Linked DNA regions of Homo sapiens: region 1 is linked to region 2. Evidence: fine-mapped expression QTL. A gene starts in region 2. The other region holds a variant in brackets. All regions are shown on one strand. Distances are from middle to middle. Region 1 has its middle 23 kb from the start of RNF186. Region 2 holds the start of OTUD3 (OTU deubiquitinase 3).

The links. PIP is the estimated chance that this variant, and not a neighbour inherited with it, causes the effect. A credible set is the group of variants that fine-mapping cannot tell apart.
Region 1: its variant is the best candidate, but not a certain one, in a credible set for the expression of OTUD3 in NK cells (Schmiedel 2018, PIP 0.53).

What each region holds. Positions count from the first base shown.
Region 1 is chr1:19,836,283-19,840,807 of GRCh38, forward strand. No RefSeq gene overlaps it. Among named protein-coding and RNA genes, the nearest start is that of RNF186, 23 kb to the left of the region's middle. The variant C/CA (reference allele first, on the strand shown) is at 1,866.
Region 2 is chr1:19,880,305-19,884,304 of GRCh38, forward strand. OTUD3 (OTU deubiquitinase 3) reads left to right here and starts at 2,091. Exons shown (of 8, transcript NM_015207.2): 1 at 2,091-2,430. The coding sequence starts at 2,210. All of the region lies in intron 1 of LOC105376823 (a long non-coding RNA gene), which reads right to left. RefSeq lists an enhancer at 1,875-1,924 and a silencer at 2,295-2,634.

The DNA.
Region 1 (4,525 bases), 44 kb before region 2:
TGCTTAAGCCCAGGAGTTTGAGGCTGTAGTGAGCTATGATCATGCCACTGTATTCTAGCCTGTGTGGCAGGGCAAGATCCTGTCTCTAAATGACAAACAAACAAAAAACAAAGAAAAGAAAAGAAAAGAAAAGGCTGGGCACGGTGGCTCATGCCTGTAATCCCCGTACTTTGGGTGGCTGAGGCGGGTGGATCATGAGGTCAGGAGTTTGAGACCAGCCTGGCCAACATAGTGAAACCCTGTCTCTACTAAAAATACAAAAATTAGCGGACATGGTGACGCACACCTGTAGTCCCAGCTACTCGGGAGGCTGAGGCAGGAGAATTGCTTGAATCCAGGAGGCGGAGGTTGTGATGAGCCAAGATCACGCCACTGCACTCTGGCCTGGGCAACAGAGCAAGACTCTGTCTCAAAAAAAAAAAAAAAAGTCACAATAAGTGTAACAGGTTTGAAATAATAAGTTAAGTTCTCTGACCACAATGGAAGAAAATTAAAAATCAATAATAGAAGAAAATTTGGGACATTCACAAATATGTGGTAATTAAGCAATGAATTCTGAAATAGCCAATGAGTCAAAAAAGAAATCACAGAGGAAATTAGGAAATACCTTGATGAAAGAAAACAAAATCACAACACACTAAAACTAATGGTATGCAGCTGAAGCCGTTGATTAGAAGGACATTTACAGGTGTAAGTGTGTACATTAAACATGAAGAAAAATCTCAGGTCAATGACCTAAACTTCCCCTTCAAGAAAACAAAAGAGGAAGAGGAAGAAAGAAAAGGAGGAGGAGAAACTAAATCCAAAGAAAGCAGAAGGAAGGAAATCATAAAGATTATAGTAGAAATAAGTAAAATTGAGGCAATAAAATAATAGAGAAAAATTAATGAAATTAAAAGATGCTTCTTTGTAAACATCAACATAATTGACAAACCTTTGTCTAGACTGATCAAGAGAAAAAGAAAGAAGACCTAAATTACTAAAACAATGAATGAAAAAGAGAGCATGTCTACTGACCTTACAGAAATAAAAGTAATATGAGGGAATATTATGAACAATTGTATACCAACAAATTAGATAATCTAAATGAAACGGACAATCTCTTAGGAAGACACACATTACTAAACTGACTCAATAAGAAATAAAAAATCTGAATAGATCTATAACAAGTAAGGAGATTGAATTAATACCTTAAAATATTTCTTATAAAAAAAAATCCAGGAGCAGATGGCTTCACTGATGAATTCTATCAAATGTTTAAAGAAGAATTAACAATTCTTCACAAACTCTTCCAAAAAATAGAAGGGGAGGGAATAGTTCCCAACTCATATTTTGAGGCCAGTATTACCCTAATACCGAAACCAGACCAAGATATCACAAGAAAAACGAAACAAAATAGACCAATATTCCTGATGAATATAGATGCAAAATTCCTGAACAAAAAGCCAGCAAACCAAATCCAGCAATATATAAAAAGGATTATGCACCACAATCAGGTGGGGTGTATTCCAGGAATGCAAAGTTGGTTCAACATATCAAAATTCAATTAATGTGATACACTATTTTAATAGAAAAAGACAAAAAACTACATGATCATCTCAATAGCTACAGAGAAAGTAGCAAAATTCAACACACTTTCAAGATAAAAAACACTCAAGATGCTGGGCACAGTGGCATGTGCTTGTAGTACCAACTACTCAGGAGGCTGAGATGAGAGGATTGCTTGAGTCCAGGGGTTCAAGTTCAGCTTGGGCAACATATGGAGACGCTGCCTCGACAAAACAAAAACAAACACAAACAAACAAAACATTCAGGAAACTAGGGAACTAGAAAGGAACTTCCTAAATCTGATAAAGAGCACCTAC[C/CA]AAAAAAAAAAAAAAAAAAAAGCCAGAGCTAAGATCATAATAATGAAAGACTGAAAGTGTTCTCCCTAACATGAGGAACAAGACAAGCATATTCATTATTGCCCACTCCTTCCTCCTTTTTCCTTCCTTCCTTCCTTCCTTCCTTCCTTCCTTCTTTTCTTCCTTTCTTTCTTTTTCTTTCTTCTTTTTTTTTTTTCCACTCTGTCACCCAAGCTGGAGTGCAATGGCACGACCTTGGCTCATTGCAATCTCAACCTCCTGGGTTCAAGCGATTCTCCTGCCTCAGCCTCAGCCTCCCAAGCAGCTAGGATTACAGGCACCCACCACCATGCCCGGCTAATTTTTTTATTTTTAGTAGAGACAGGTTTTCGCCATGTTGGCCAGGCTGGTCTCGAACTCCTGACCTCAAGTGATCTGCCCGCCTCGGCCTCCCAAAGTGCTGGGATTACAGGAGTGAGCGACCGTGCCTAGCCACATTATTGCAATTTCTATTAACATTATTGTGGAAGTTCTAGACAGAGCAGTTAGGAAAAAGAAAAAAAGGAAGAAAGTAAGGAAGAAAGAGAGGAAAGAGGAAGGAAAGGAAAGGAGAGGAAAGGCAAGGAAAGTCATGTAGATTGAAAAGGAAGATGTAAAACTCTTTCTATTTGCATATTACATGATCTTTTATATAAAATATCCTAAGGAATACATTCCCAGACACTCCCACGTATATATTATTATAGCTAATAAATAGGTTCAGCAAGACTGAGGATACAAGATCAATATACGAAATCAATTCTATTTTTATACATTAGAAATTAACAACTCCAAAATGAAATTTAAAAAATTCCATTTGTAATAGCATCACAAAAATGAAATATGAATACATTTAGCAGAAGAAGTGCAAAATATATACTCTAAAAACTACAAAACATTGTTGAAGGAAATTAAAGAAAACCTAAATGAATGGAAAGATATCCTATGTTTATGGATTGTAAGATTTAATATTGTTAAAATATCCACACACCCCAAATTAATCTACCAATTTAATGCAATTCCTATGGAAAACCTAACTGGCTTTATTTTTGCAGAAATTGACAAGTTAATCTTAAAATTTATATGGAAATTCAAGGGATCCAGAATAGGAAAAAACAATTTCGAAAAAGAAGAATAAAATAGGAGAACTCACACTTCCCAATTTCAAAACTTACCACAAGGAGCTGTAGTAGTCAAGACCATGAGGCACTGGTATAAGAATAGATGTATAGATTAACTGAATAGAGTTGGAAGCCCAGAAATAAACTCATACATTTGTCAATTGATTTTCAACAGTGATGCTAACACAATTCAATGAGGGAAAGAATAGTCTTTTCAACAAATGGTGCTGGAATAGCTGGATATCCACATTTAGAAGAAAGAAGTTGGACATAATTTAACAAAATTAGCTCAAAATGGACCAAAGACCTAAATGTAAGAGCTAAAAGTGTAACATTCTTAGAAGAAAACATAGGTGCAAATCTTTATGACCTTGGAATAATCAGTGGCTACTTAGATGTCACACACAAAGCACAAGCAACTGAAAAAAAAATGACTTCATCAAGATTAAAAATGTTTTTGGGCGCAGTGGCTAACACCTATAATCCTAGCACTTTGGGAGGCCAAGGTGGATGGATCGCATGAGCTCAGGAGTTTGAGACCAGCTGGGGCAACATAGTGAAACCCTGTCTCTACCACAAGAAACACAAAAAATTATCCGGGCATGGTGGCGTGTGCCTGTGGTCCCAGCTACTCGAGGCTAAGGTGGGAGGATAGCTTGCTCCTGGGAGGCAAAGGCTGCAGTGAGCCGTGACCACACCATTCCCTTCCAACCTGAATGACAGAGTGAGACTTTGTCTCAAAAATAAATAAATTAAAAAAAAAGTTTATGCTCCAAAGGCACGATCACAAAAGTGAAAAAAAAAACCCACAGAATGAAAGAAAATATTTGCAAATTCTATAACTGAAAGAGTCTAGTATCCAGAATATATAATAAACTCTTACAATTTAACAGTAAAATACAAATAGCTCAATTTAAAAATGGGCAAAGAATTTGAACAGACATTTCTCCCAAGAAGATATGTAAAGGACCAATAAGCAGGTGAAAAGATGCAAACCCAAACCACAATGAGATATCATTTCCCACCCACCAGAATAACTATCATCAGAAAGACAGACAATAACAGGTGTTGGGGGAAATGTGGAGAAATTGGAACCCTCATATCATGCATTATTGGTGAGAAAGCAAAATTATTCAGCCACATGATTTGGAAAACATTTTGTCATCTCCTCAAAAAGCTAAAAATGGAATTCTCATATGACTCAGCAATTCCATTCCTAGGTATATACTCAAGAGAATTGAAAACATGTTCATATAAAAACTCATACATGAATGCTCATAGTATCATTATTCATAATAGCTGGAAAGTGGGAACAACCCAAATGTCTATCAACTGATGAATGGATAAACAAAATGTCATCTATCAATACAATGGAATATTATTCAGCTATAAAATGAATGAAGTATGGACACGGGCTACAACATGGATAAACCTTGAAAACATTATACTAACTAGCAGAAGGCAGACACAAAAGACCCACATATATGATCCCATTTATAGTGTCCAGAACAGGCAAATACA
Region 2 (4,000 bases):
CAGGTGATCCGCCCGCCTCCACCTCCCAAAGTGTTGGGATTACAAGCGTGAGCCACACGCCCAGCCAAAAAGATTTTTACAAGACGGGCAAGTGTTCGCTTTTCTATCAATATGTTAGCAGTCTGTATTTACTTATTTGCTGGTGAGAAACCTTTCTTCCCTGGTTTCTAAAGTTTGAAAGTCTTTGCCCCTGAGCTCATGAGATTTCCAGAGAACTGATTCAAACAACTTCATTAAATAGGTACTTACTTCATGCCTGGGGCTTTACATTTTTATTTAATCTTTACAACTCTCTTTTGCATTCTTATTGTCATCAGAAAAATGCAAATCAAAATCACGATGAAATACCATCTCATGCCAGTTAGAATGGCTTTTGTTAAAAAGAAAAAATAGCAGATGTTGCTGAGGCTGTGGGGAAAAGGGGAACATTTTTACACTGTTGGTGGGAATGTAAATTAGTTCAGCCACTGTGGAGAGCAGTTTGGAGATTTCTCAAAGAACTAAAAATTGAACTACCACTCGACCCAGCAATCTCATTACTGGGTCTATACTCAAAGGAATATATATCGTTCTATCAAAAAGACAGATGCACCCGTATGTTCACTGCAGCACTATTCACAATAGCAAAGACATAGAATCAACCCAGGTACGCATCAACAGTGGATTAGATAAAGAAAATGTGGTATATATACACCATGGAATACTATGCAGCCATAAAAAAGAACAAAATCATGTCCAGGAAGAGGGGAGAACAGCAACATGGATACAGCTGGAAACCATTATCCTAAGTGAACTAAGGCAGAAACAGAAAACCAAATACTGCACGTTCTTATAAGTGGGAGCTAAACATTGGATACACATGGACACAAAGATGGGAACAATAGACTCTGGGGAATACAAGAGTCGGGAGGCAGTTGGGGGAAAGGGTTGAAAAACTACCTATTGTGTATTGTGTACTTTGCTCACTACCTGGGTGACAGATTCATTTGTACTCCAAACCTCAGCCTCACGCAATATAGATGGGGTTTCACCATCTTGGCCAGCTGGCCAGGCTGGTCTCGAACTCCTGACCTCAGGCGATCCCCTGGCCTCGGCTTCCCAAAGTGTTGGGATTACAGGCGTGGGCCACTGCACCTGGCCTCAGTTTTTGTTTTTGTTTTTTTGTTTGTTTGTTTTTTGAGATGGAGTCTCGCTCTGTCCCCCAGGCTGGAGTGCAGTGGTGCAATCTCGGCTCACTGCAAGCTCCGCTTCCCGGGTTCATGCCATTCTCCTGCCTCAGCCTCCCGAGTAGCTGGGACTACAGGCGCCCGCCACCACGCCCGGCTAATTTTTGTATTTTTAGTAGAGACGGGGTTTCACAGTGTTAGCCAGGATGGTCTCCATCTCCTGACTTTGTGGTCAGCCCGCCTCGGCCTCCCAAAGTGCTGGGATTACAGGTGTGAGCCATCACGCCCAGCCTGGTCTGTCTCAGTTTTAAAACGGAAAGTCCTGCATCCCAAGAAAACCTCTAGTCCAGGCAAACCTAGGTGGGTCGCTCTAGGATGGAATTAGGATTTCCAGTGGTCTTGGACAGAAGGGCGACCTCTCCCTTGAGTTACGAAGGAAGGCGGAGAGATGAAGGGCAGGATTAAATAAACAAGTATGCGGGCTTTGGAGCCAGGGCAAAGCTCTGCCTTTTAGCTGTGTGATCTTGAAATTATTTAACCACTCAGATTCAGTTTCCTGTAATTTGGGGATAATTAAACAAGAATGAGCCGTGTGAAAGTGCCTATCCAACTGTAGTAGGCTCGCAGCAAGAGTTTAAATCGTTTTTATTCATCTCCGGTCCTAACTTTTGCCGCTGCTCTGTGTTCCACTCTTCTATCATCTTTAATTTCTCTGCTTGACTTGTTCCTGCTTTGTTCTCTCTGGTCCCTCTCCGGTCGCTCCTGCCACTCACGTTGAGTACCATCCACCACTAGAGGGCGGAATAGAACAAACCAAGATGGGTGCCCCTCCAGCTCTCTATGGCGTCTGCTCGCCGAGCCCCGCAAAAGAGGCGGGGATTCCATCATGTGACCGGGGTGCTGGGCGCCGGCGCAGGCGCGGTTGCTGCGTAGTCGTCGCCGGGCTCCGTTGCCCGCGCTGTTTTACCTTCCCAACGCTTGAGGCGGACGCTGGGGGGTCCTGCGCCTTTCCCTCCTGCCGCTGGGGACTGCAGGCTAAGGCCATGTCCCGAAAGCAGGCGGCGAAGAGCCGGCCGGGCAGCGGCAGCCGGAAAGCCGAGGCCGAGCGCAAGCGGGACGAGCGGGCGGCGCGCCGGGCCCTGGCCAAGGAGCGGCGGAATCGGCCGGAGTCTGGCGGCGGCGGCGGCTGCGAGGAGGAGTTCGTCAGCTTCGCCAACCAGCTGCAGGCCCTGGGGCTGAAGCTGCGGGAGGTGCCGGGGGACGGGTGAGGCGGGCCGGGAGCGAGGGAGGCGGCGCCGGGGGACGCGCCGGGCTCGGCCTGGCGACCGTTGCCCGCTCGCGTCCATCCATCCATTCATTCGGGCGGCCCGGGCGCCTCCCGCGAGCCAGCCACGCTCCGAGTGCAGGGCGTCCAGCTGCGAGTGAGGCGGACAAGCCCCTCGCCCCGAGACGCTCGCGGGGATCCCAAAGGGTCCTAATCATGGCAGACGCCGCGAGCGAAATAGAAAGTGGGTGCTGAGACCGTATATGGGAGCAGGGCCACTGGATTGTGGCCAGGAAGGGCTCTCTCAAAGGTGACATTTAAGCTGAGTTCTGAAGGAATGAGATGGAGCCAGGCATTGGAAAAACAGTTATCATGACGATAAGACCAGTTGAAGGAGTTTGAGTAAGCCCCACTTGGTAGAACGCTTTGCCTCCTTTGAGTCCTTGGTTTTTGGGTGGTGCCCCCATTTACATTTGTGAAATTAGGTCGCCTGTTTACTGAGCTGAAGGCAGCTTCTCTAATTCTTCCTTCCATGGGCCTCAGTTTCTCTGTAAGCAAAGGTGCTTCCCCAAGCTTTCTTGGGACTTAGACTGGATCCAGGTCCAGCTTTCTTTAGGGAACGCGGAGGGGGAGAGTGGGGAGGAGGAAGAAAATTAGCTTCAAGAAAGGGGATATGGCTCCAGGAACATGGATGGAAGAAGGAAAAGGGTCAGGAAGAGGGGAGAACAGTTAGGATCCCCATTGCAGGGGCAGGTAAAAAGGGGTCTGGTTGTCAGCTGTGTCACTTTGGAAGAGAGAGTGTTAATAACAGCCTGGCTTTTGTTTTTTTCCTCCCCGTATTTGAGTGCTCAGATCCTGCAGAGGGAAGACTAAAATGAAATTAAAGACCATAAGGAATTGCCTTAGTTCATTATTATTGTTATTTTGTAGAGACGGTGATTTTGCTGTGTTGCCCAGGCTGGTCTCGAACTCCTGGCTTCAAGCGATCCTCCTGCCTCGGCCTCCCAAAGTGCCTAGATTACAGGCATGAGCTACCACCCCCGGCCAGGAATTGCCTTAGATATTAACTGCAGAATAAGGTGTTTTAAAAATTTTCACATTACATTGCAGCTTATTGATTAAGACTGTGAACTGGTCCTAATTTCCCTTTCCCACCGTTCCTGTTTATGCTCATTGCTTCAGGCAGATTGGATTTCTTTTTGCTCACAAAGAGTTCACCACACTTTGCTGCGTTGCTGTTTTTGCTTAAGATGCAGTTGGAACTTGATTACATTTATTCACCATCATCTGGCAAAGTGCTTGGTACATGGAAGGCAGTCAGTACGTTTTTGCTGAATGAAATATAAAAATAATAGAGGGAGGTCAGCTAGCCTAAGCATAAGCCCAAGACACCCTTATAGAAACAGAAATACCAATTGAATACAGTGGAATTGGCGTGGGACATTGGGGCTTTTCCTTGCAAATGATTGGATTGCTTGTGTCTGCTATACTGGGTATGGTATTCTCAATGTCAGGGTGCCCAGGAAACTGAAGTACTCAATAGAAGGTTACTTATGAGGAGGAATTAGCA